Homo sapiens: one gene and its partners. The protein of the gene in region 1 interacts with the protein of each later gene in a pairwise test. Each region holds a gene or a part of one and is shown in the gene's direction. Other genes may lie near its edges.

Region 1 (3,653 bases):
AGCAAACCTCCCACCCCAGCCTCCCAAGTAGCTGAGACTCTAGGCATGCACCACCCTCCAAGCTTGTTTTTTAATCCAAGTAGCTTTCAGTAGTTCCAAAGCTATTTACTCAATAATCAATCTTTCCTAAAAATTTTAAAATAGACTATATGGATTAATTGGCTAATTTTATGAAGAACACTCACCATGGACCCATACCTCATGCTGTATACTAAAATAAATTCCAGATAGGTCTAAGAGTTAAACTAAAAAAAAAAAAAAACCAATAAAATAATGTAATTGCTTGATTATTCTGGCTCTTTGAAGAAAAAGAAACTTGAACCTACTTTAATAAATTAAAAAAAAAATGTGCACTCCGATGTTGTTGGGGCTTCGGGCAAGCAGATGCCCAATGTTTATTCCCATTGACTTAGTAACTCTGATTTGAGATACATTAAAGAAATGGTTCAGAAAGAGGAAATAAAAGTTATATGTCTAAAAATAGTCCCAGGTAACTATGATGGTTAAAAGTTGGGCAAAACAAATTCCCTAAGGGTAAAGTACTAAGCAGAACATGGTGTTTTGACCTAATAGTATATTATGACACTATCAAATATTATGACAACTCTGTGTACTCAATTTTCATGCATCGATAAACTGTGGTAGAAAAGTAGACTCCCAGATAACTTGTACATACTACTTCAGTATGTAAAATATTTGTATATGTTTATTTAGGAGATTGGACTAAAACTTGAAGGAAAGTATTAAGAAATATTGAGTACCTCCCCTGTCAGGCTTAGCCCCTGCCTTAAAGTACATTCAGATTGGAGAGATAGACATTTCCACTTATAATTACAATACAATTTGGCACATTCTGTATAATAAAAGGGTGCATAAGTTTGTGTGAGCCCATAGGATCCTGGGAATGATGGAAGGATTGGGACAGTGGGAGGAGGAGATGGATGGTTCCCAGTTCCTCCACCAGGAAGGAAAGATTTATAACAGTTTTACTGAGGTATATTTAACATACCGTAAAATTCACCATTTAAAGTGTACAGTTCAGTGGTTATTGTGTATTCACAGAGTTGTGCAACCATCACCACAATAATTTTAAAACATTTTCGGCCGGCATGGTGGCTCATGCCTGTAATCCCAGCCGTTTGGGAGGCCAAGGCAGGCGGATCACGAGGTCAGGAGATCAAGACCATCCTGGCTAACACGGGGAAACCCCGTCTCTACTAAAAATACAAAAAAATTAGCCGGGTGTGGTGGCAGGTGCCTGTAGTCCCAGCTACTTGGGAGGCTGAGGCAGGAGAATGGCTTGAACCCGGGAGGCAGAGCTTGCAGTGAGCCGAGATTGTGCCATTGCACTCCAGCCTGGGCGACAGAGCAAGACTCCGTCTCAAAAAAAAAAAAAAAAAAAAATTTCATCAACCCCAAAAGGAACCTTGAACCCTTCAGCAGTCCACCTTCATTTCACCTAACTCATTCCTCCAATCCAGCCCTAGCAGGCACCAATCTACTTTCTACCTCTGTAGATTTGTGTATTTGAAACATTTCATATAAATGGAATCATGCAATATGTGGTCATTTGTGATTGGCTTCTTTTACTTAGCATAGTATTTCTAAGGCTCATCCATGTTGTATCAGGTATCAGTTCTTTATTCCTTTTTATTGCCAAATATTCCATTGAATGGATGTATCTCCCATTTATCAGTTGATAAATACTTAGGTACTTCCGCTTTTGGTCCATTATGAATAATGCTGCTATGAACGTTTGTGTATAATTTTTTGTGTGGATATATGTTTTCATTTCTACCTAGAAGTAGAATTGCTAGGTCTTATGATAACTCTGTATTTAATCATTTGAGGAACTTCCAGACTGTTTTCCAAAGCAACTGCACCATTTTACACTCCTTCCAGCAGCGTATAAGGGTTCCTGTTTCTCTGCATCATCCCTAACACTTGTTATTATCTGTCTTTTTTATTTTAACTATCCTAGTGGGTCTGAAATGATATCTCACTGTGGTTTTGATGTGCATTTACCTGATGGTTAATGATGTCAAGCAACTTTTTATGTTCTTATTGACTATATGTACGTCTTCGGAGAAAACTGTCTATTCAGATTCTTTGTCTATATTTTAACTAAGTTATTTGTCTTTTTATTACTAAGTTGTAAGAGTTCTTTATATATTCTATATATAAGTCCCGTAACAGATATATGACTTACAAATATTTTCTCCCATTCTGTGGGGTCTTGCCCTGTTGCCCAGGCTGGAGTGTAGTGGTGTGATCATAGCTTACTGCAGCCTTGAATTCCTGGGCTCAAGCGATCCTCTCACCTCAGCCTCCCAAGTGGCTGGGATTACAAATGCACCCCACCAGCCTGGCTAATTTTAAAATTTTTTGTAGAGACAGAGTCTTACCGTGTTGCCCAAGCTAGTCTTGAACTCCTGGCCTCAAGCGATCTTCCTGCCTCAGCCTCCCCAAGTGTTGGCATTACAGGCATGAGCCACTGGGCCTGGTGACTTTTCCCTTACTTGATGGTATCCTTTGAAGGACAAAAGTCATTAATTGTGATGAATTCCAGTTTTTTTTTTCTTTTGTTGCTTCTGCTTTTGGTGTCATATCTAAGAAACCATCACTAATCTAGGGCCGGGAAGATTTATGTCTATGTTTTCTTTTAAGTTTTAGCTCTTACATTTCGGTCTTTTATCCATTTTGAGTTAATTTTTTTATATAGTATGAGATAAGGATCCATCTTCATTCTTTTGCATGTGGCACCATTTATCCCAGGCACCATTTGTTGAAAAGACTGTGCTTTCCCCATTGCATTGTTTTGGCACCCTTTTAAAAAAGCAGTTGATCATAAATATCAGGGTTTATTTCTAAAGTCTCAAATCTAGTCCTTTGATCTATATGTCTACCCTTATGTCAGTATCACCCTCTTTTACTATTTTGGCTTCATGGTACATTTTGAAATAAAAAGGTGTGAGTCTTCCAACTATGTTCTTTTTCAAGATTGTTTTAGCTACTCTAGGTCTCTTGACTTTCCATCTAATTTTGGTATCAGCTGGTCAATATCTTTGAAGAAGCAAGCTGAGATTTTAGTAGGGATTGCAATGAATCTGTAGATCAATTTGAGGAGTACTGCCATTTATCAATGTTAAATCTTTTAATCTTTGAACATGAGGTTTCTTTCCATTTATTTAGGCCTTCAGCTTCTTTCAGTAATGTTTTGTAGTTTTCAGAATATAAGAATATAAGTTTTTCACTTCTTTTGTTAAATTTATCCTAATCTTATTGTTTGAGACTATTATAAATGTTTTATTAATTTTCTTTGTGGATTATTTAATACTAATGCATAGAAATACCACTTTTTTTTTTTAATGCGATGGGGTTTTATACGTTTCTCAGGCTGACCTTGAGCTCCTGGGCTCAAGCAGTCCTCAGCCTAAATCTACTGAATAGCTTTGACTACAGGTGTGTGCCACTATGTCAGGCTGATTTTTATATGTTGAGCTTGTATCCTGCAATCTTGCTGTATTTATATATTAGTTTTAATAGCTTTTTAGTGATTTCCAAGGATTGTCTATATGCAAGATTTTGTCATCTGCAAATAGAGATAATTTTACTTCTTCCTTTACAATCTGGATGCCTTTTATTTCTTTCTC
Region 2 (3,653 bases), on another chromosome or scaffold:
AAGGCCTCCCACTGTGCTGTGGGGATGGATTAGGATGGTGGTGGAACAGAAGGGCCTCCGTGTTCTCTCTCCCTAGTAAGGGGAATGTATCCCTTCTAGAGTAGGGCTTGCCAAGCTGCAGCCCACGGCTCACTCCCTGTTTCTTTTTAAATTATGGTTTTATATGTACGTTTATAGAGTTTGAAATTTGCCATTTTAAAGCATGCTTTCAGTGGCATTCAGTACGTTCAGTGTTGTGCAGCTGTGAGAATGATGCATTTCTGGAGCTTGTCCGTTATCCCAGACAGAAACTCTGTACCTATTAAGCAACAACTCCCCATTCGACCTCCCCCAGCCCCTGATAGCTTTTAATCTACTTTCTTTCTCTATGAATTTGCCTATTCTAGATGTCGCATATAGATGAATTCATTCTGTATTTGTCCTTTTGTGTCTGGCTTCTTTCATTTAGCACGACGTTTTCAAGGTTCTTGCTTATCCATTTGTCTGTTGATGGACAATTGAGTTGCTTCCACATTTTAGCTATTATGAATAATGCTGCAGTGAACATTGGTGTGCAAGCATCTGGTCGAATCTCTGTTTTCAGTTCCTTTGGTTATATACCGAGGAGTGGAATTGCTGGGTCATATGGTGATGCTGTTTCGCTTTTTGAAGAACTGTCAAATGTTTTCTACAGTAGCTGCAGCATTTTACGTTCCCACCAGCAATGTGAAAGGGTTCCACCTCTTGGTTTTATACATAAAGTGGCGTGCAGTTCCCAAACTAGTGCTGTCAGCTTCACCTGGGAATCTGTTAGGAATGCAGCTTATTGGACGCTATCCCAGACCTGCCGAATCTGAAACTCTGGGGGTGGGGCTAGCAATCTGTCTTTTAATGCTTTCTGGGTGATTCTGATCTAAGTCAAGTTTGAGGACCCTGTCCTGCAGCATTGGTGTCACCCTTCATGGGTGGCCATATTCAAACACTCTGAGACCAAAATAGAGAGTAATTGATTTCCCAGTGACTCAGTGGAAGAGGCAGGTGTCTGCCCCTCTCTGTCATCGGTATTATCACCTATGTGGCAGCGAAGTGTTCCATAGTCATAGTGCTGATGCTCAGATCTTTGGAATTTTGTGATAGTCACAAAACTGAGAAGTAGGCAAATATGCTTGGCAAAATTGGCACATGTTGGCTGCTCACCATTGTCGGAATTGTACATTTTTTATTACAAAGTGTTCCATGTTCAGACTTGATGAACTCTCATTCTGCTTTCCTTGAATTTTATTTTTCCCCATAATCCTTGACACTTGAGCTTTTGCGTTTATGCAAATCCATATCATATGGACATCTTAGGAACTTCTTAGGCCTAAGCCTAAAACAAATGGCTGTTTCTTTTATTATTTATATAAAGAATAATATAAATAATTATGTTTCTACTAAGCTCAATAGACATATAATTATATAATACACGATTTTTTATATTAGAGTTGCAAAATGTGGCCGAACAATTGAAAAGACCACTTACTCCTGGTCACTCAGTTCTGGCCACTTAGTCCTGGCCATGTCTTAGCTATTGCAGGCGACTGCGACATGCTCATCTGAAAGCCTTTTGTGGCACCCATTATAAAGCTCGCTGGCCCAGCATTGCTCTGGAGACTTTATTCCTCACCCTGGCTCTTTCAAGATCCATTCTCAACCCTGAGATTATACCATGGATAGTCAGCAACTGGTCTGATTCCTGAGTGACGTCCTAAAAAGGCTGAAACACAAGCCAAAACCTGTCTTTCAAAACTTGTCCTTCCTCCCTCACTTTTAATATTCCAGACCAAGATGACACAAATGTTGGTAAATGTACATTTTTGCACTTAAAATAGGAAAGAGGAGAAGAGGAAGAGGAGGAAGAATTAGTAACTGTTGTTCCAAAATGGAAAGCTACCCAAATCACTGAATTGGCCCTGTGGACACCAACTCTCCCCAAAAAGCCGACCTCTACGGATGGACCTGGCCAAGACGCTCCAGGAGCTGAGAGTGTGGGGCACCCCCGGGCTGTGGGGTGGAGGGGGCAGAGGGTGTGGGGCACCCCCGGGCTGTGGGACAGAGGGTGTGGGGCATCCCCGGGCTGTGGGGTGGAGGGGTCAGAGGGTGTGGGGCATCCCCGGGCTGTGGGGTGGAGGGGGCAGAGGGTGTGGGGCATCCCCGGGCTGTGGAGTGGAGGGGGCAGAGGGTGTGGGGCATCCCCGGGCTGTGGGGTGGAGGGGGCAGAGGGTGTGGGGCACCCCCGGGCTGTGGGACAGAGGGTGTGGGGCATCCCCCGGGCTGTGGGACAGAGGGTGTGGGGCATCCCCAGGCTGTGGGATGGAGGGTGTGGGCGCCTTTGGGCTGTGGGAGTTGTGGACATCCTGTTTTCAGGCCAGGTGTGGTTGGACTCTCTGAAAATCAGATGCTGGGTCAGTTGAGTGTGCGGGATGTTATTAGGGAGAGCCTTTGGGATTGGAGGACACTCCCGGAGAGCGGAGGGGAGAGGAAAGAAACAGAGTTGATTGGACAGAGGCGGAGGTGTGGCCTCCACAACCTTGCTTCATTCCATGGGGAGCACTGTGGCGTCTCGGGGACCCTTATCCCCTCACCTAGGTCAGTGAGTGAATGTGGGTGTGACCCCGGGCTGGCACTGACAGCAGCTGAGGGGACAGCCCTTCCCTGAAGAAGGGTCCGTGTGGCACCTCCATGTCCAACCCAGTGGTCTTTCTGGAAGTCCTTAATGTGCTGGGGAAAGTTGAAGGTGGCTACCCCGGGTGAGATCCCTTCCATGGCAAGCGGAGGAAAGCCAACTCCGATTGGCCTCCGTGAAAGAATACTCATGCTGCTAAGAATTTCTTGGCTCATGTGACTGGGAAGCTCCGGGACAGCCCCCAGAATGGCCGGGCAGCCTCTGCCCTCTGTCCCAGCTCTCCTCTCTGCTGGCTCCCCTGGCTGGCACTCTCAGGAACCCCAGGGGACTTCTCTTTCTCAAGAGTCTCATCAACACCCTCAGGAATGAAAGTTATCAGACTACCTGCTCCCATCCCCAAGCCACTGACTACAGTGGGGACTGGGCTGCTCCCCTGGCCAGGCCTAGGCTGGGCTGGGTGGATGTTGAGATGGGGAACATGAGGTGCTGCCAGTGGGAGGGGGAGGGTGGGGGCACGGCAGCCCAGGGGACAGCTGCCCTGCACAGGTCTGCAGGCTCCATTTTTCCCAGGAACTCAGGCTTCTGACTTGTGTTTTATCTCAGGTGCAGGAGAACCCGGGGAGGAGGCCCAGGCTCTGCTGGAGGGCTTCGAGGGTGAGATGGACATGAGGCCTGGAGATGAAGATGCAGACGTCCTCCGGGAAGAGAGCCGGGAGTATGACCAGGAGGAGTTCCGCTATGACATGGATGAGGGTGAGGTCCCTGCGCAGGGAAGTGGGGCGAGGGCCCGCACTTAGGGGCCACGAACAGTGGGATTCCCCTTCCCTTCACCAAGGCCTGCCTTCAGCTGGGCCCCAGGGACTCGAGGAAGGCTTAGGGGGCCCCCTGTGAGCGCTCACTGGAGCCATCTCAGAACGTTGCTCCCTGGCAGGCCCTCCTGCAAGCCTGGCTGCAGTGGGAGAGGCCTGGGTGTGCAGCGGTGCCCATGCGCGTTGTCACAGGAGGACCG
Region 3 (3,653 bases), on another chromosome or scaffold:
TTAAAAAATAGCTGGGCATGGTGATGCACACCTGTAGTCCCAGCTACTCAGGAGGCTGAGGTGGGAGGATCACTTGAGCCCAGGAGCTCGAGGTTGCAGTGAGATATGATGACACCACTGCACCCCAGCCTGGGTGATAGCACAAGACCCTGCCTCAAAAAAAAAAAAAAAAAAAAAAAGCTTCATACACACGTTCATACACACGAGTACTAAGTACGCAAGTAAGTGCTCACACGATTAGGGTAGAAAGGGCTGGAAGCCCATCAGGACCGCTCAGGGCTCTCTGGATTTGTTGTATATGTTGTGTTGGCACCTCCTTGGCTTGACTGCCCCAAATAGAACCTGATGTGAAGGTGGAAGCAGTTATGTTTCCAGTTGCCTTTGCAAAGCCGTTATTGCAGGCACAATCTTTAAATGTAGACAGTGGGTTTCCAGAAGTCCTGCTCTGCTTCACCTTGGTTTGTTGGGCTTGTTCCAGAAGAATTGACCTCCTAGGAATGCCCTGCCCTTGCTGGAATGCCTTGGAAGAGCACAGTGAAAGGGAACTGGGGTCCATTGAAGGCCTCTCGCTGCCCAGGCAGAGGGAGATGGGCTTCCTGGAGCATTGGCTGGGCCACAGCTCCTCCCTCATTCAACACACAGTTGAGAGCATAGAGTATTGAAAAGGTGGAGTTTCTCTAATCAGTTTGGATGACTTTTCAAAGAGGAATCCCATTGTGTCTTCTAGTATGTGTCTAAGTGCATATGTTTGCTTCTGATTTGTAGGATAAAAAGCCCAAAGAACAAGAAAAAAGAGGGGATTTTCTTCATCGACCATTCTCCAAGAAGTTGGACAAGAACCTGCCCTCGCACAAACAGCCCTCAGGCTCGCTTATGACACAGATTCAGAACACCAAAGCCCTCCTGAAGGACCGGAAGGCCTCCAAGTCCAGCTTCCCCGACAAAGGTGGGTCAGCTCTGGGGACTCTCTCAGGCCACTCGTGTTGGGCTGTGTGTCCGCTGTGTAGCCCTCACAGGGGATGGTCGAATGGGCCCTAGAGCAGAGATGATTCCTGTGCCCACAGAAAAGCAGGATTAATGGACCTGAGGTTGCCTGAGCACAGTCCAGGACCAAGCTGTGTGGCATTAGCCATCTGTGCAGGAAGAATTTGAGAAAACAGAGATGGGGTGCAAAGTATTACGGAAACAGAAATTGGGGTGGATGATATTGTCAGAACAGAGGTTGGGAGGCACAGTATTGCAGGAGCAGAGATCAGGGTGTGTGGTACTGCAGGGGCAGAGATGAGGCTGTAAGGAATTGTGGGAGTAGAGATGGGGTGCAGAGCAGAGACCGGGTATCTCCCTGAGTTCAAATCCCAGCTCTACTGCCTGCAGAGGTCCAAGTTCCTTTAGTGCTGAGGATCTTCACTGGATTATTTGTAAGGCCTCCCACCTGTTGGAGCTGTTGGGTAGATGAGATGAGATGCATATATAAGCTCCCTCACCTGAGTCAGAATCCAGCCCATCACAGATAACTGACAAATATGTTTCCCTCCTCTGGGACGAGTGCTAAAAGATGCAAAAGGCAGACCTTACTGGGCACAGGCTTAACACATGGTAGAAACGCCAAGAGGGGACACAGGAGCTGAGGGCGTCCTGAAGCAGAGCCATGAAGTAGAGGAGAGGTTCTTATTACTGAGGGGGATGAGACACTTCTTGGAGTTCAATCTCCTAAAATATGAAAGACCAGGTTCAGAGAGGGCCGTGGCTGTCTGAGATACACTCAGGTGTAGCGGGCAGTTAGTCCCTGAGCGGGACTTGAACCTGCCTCCTGTCCTTCTATCTCCCATGCTGCTCCCGGAGAGAAGCCACTGTACCCACTTTGCCCAAAGCAACCTGCTTTCCCTGGGGCAGAGCATGCAGTGGATCGGGGAGGGGCAGCAGTGTCCATGTGGCAGCTGGAACACTGGAGACCTTGGCCATTAATGAAGTTTTACTTCTTTCTGCTGATGCATCTCAGGTGCCTGCGCCGGCCTTTCATTTCGGTGCCTGTGTGTTTATTTCTGCAAGGCAGGGAGGCTTCCCAGTGCCCTCAGCCACTCCCAAAATCGATCCCAGTGGGCAGGAGCTTGCTCCTGCAGCTGGGCCTCCACAGAGCCTATAAAACGTTATGGGAGAAGAAAGAAGCTAAGACAGAGCTTATTCCGCATGAACTTGGCTTTATTTCCCTCATCCCCAAATCTGTAGGGGGTTTCCCCTTTCTTTTCTGGCCCAGTTTCCAAACCTGGATTCTAGTCTATGCCAACCAGAGACAGAAACCATGGGGATCTGGCAGGTTGCCTTAACTGTATGGATGGATGATATTCTTCCCCCGTTCAGAATTGGATGAGGTTCCATCCAGATCAAAAGTCACGAGGGAGCCTTAAAAGGGAAGGAAATCCTGGCACATGCTCCAACACAGATGAACCTGGAGGACATTATGCTAAGTGAATTACGCCAGTCCCTAAAGGCGGATACTGTGTGATTCCACTTATATGAGGTCCCTAGAGTGGTTAGATTCATAGAGACAGGCAGTAAAATGGTGGTTGCTGGGGGTTTCAGAGAATGGGGATGTATATGGGGTGTTAGATTTGCAACAGGAAGACAGTTCTGGAGATTGATTCTACAACAGTGTGAATATACTTATTATTGCTGAACTGTACACTTAAAAATGGTTAAGATGATAACATTTCTGCTACGTGTTTTTTACCACAATAAATAAATTTTTTAAATGTCACAAGGGAAACATGTCTTCCACTGTGGGCTGTCCAAGGACCAGATTGGCAGGAATTCAGTCAAGGGACCTTGGTGTGCTTCTGGGAGTTTTATGGATGTGCTGTTGAGTGCATGTACCTTTTTTATTCCAAGATCCTTTGGCAAGGTCCAGAATTTTTTTTTCTTTTTTTTCTTTTTTTGAGACAGAGTCTCACTCTGTCACCCAGGCTGCAGTGCAGTAGTGCCATCACGGCTCACTGCAGCCTCCACTTCCCAGGCTCAGGTGATCCTCCCACCTCAGCCTCCCAAGTAGTTAGGACCACAGGTGCATGCCACCACACCCTGCTAATTTTTTAAAATTTTTTTAGAGACGGGGTCTTGCCATATTGCTCACGCTGGTCTTGAATTCCTGGGCTCAAGCAGTCCTCCCACCTTGGCCTCCCAAAGTGCTGGGATCACAGGCGTGAGCCACCGCTGCCTAGGGTCCAGAATTTTAAGCAACCAAAAGCAGGGACGATGTTAGGCTGGGGCCATGAGGCAAATTGGAATCCAGGAGACGTCCTGTCGCCAGCCCTCTGTCCCTCCATCCTAGGAAGACTGCCCGACCTCTGTGGGGAGAGTGACATGCTGCTGGTGACTTTTGCAAAGTAGCCAAGGCTGTTTGCCGGTTGGTTTCTTCTGACCTTGGCGGGAACTGTCTCAGTTAAGCTGGAGGTCACAGCAGGCAGGAGAAGGGCCGTGAGCACTGTCCGGACGTCCTCATGATTGTTTATGCTTTCTTGGTGTGCAGATTCCTTTGGCTGCCGCAATATTTTCCGCAAAACCTCAGATTCCAATTGTGTGGCTTCTTCTTCCATGGAGTTCATCCCCGTGCCACCGCCCAGGACCCCGAGGATTGTGAAGAAACCGGAGCCCCATCA

The links.
Region 2: the proteins of ZNF197 (region 1) and RSPH1 interact in a two-hybrid assay, tested with the Homo sapiens proteins (one large-scale study listed by BioGRID and IntAct).
Region 3: the proteins of ZNF197 (region 1) and HUNK interact in a two-hybrid assay, tested with the Homo sapiens proteins (one large-scale study listed by BioGRID and IntAct).

What each region holds. Positions count from the first base shown.
Region 1 is NC_000003.12:44,634,922-44,638,574, forward strand, and holds part of ZNF197 (zinc finger protein 197), read left to right. Parts: intron 1-3,653. UniProt on the Homo sapiens protein: May be involved in transcriptional regulation.
Region 2 is NC_000021.9:42,475,642-42,479,294, reverse strand, and holds part of RSPH1 (radial spoke head 1 homolog), read left to right. Parts: intron 1-1,850; coding exon 1,851-2,004; intron 2,005-3,247; coding exon 3,248-3,397; intron 3,398-3,653.
Region 3 is NC_000021.9:31,995,003-31,998,655, forward strand, and holds part of HUNK (hormonally up-regulated neu tumor-associated kinase), read left to right. Parts: intron 1-765; coding exon 766-946; intron 947-3,523; coding exon 3,524-3,653.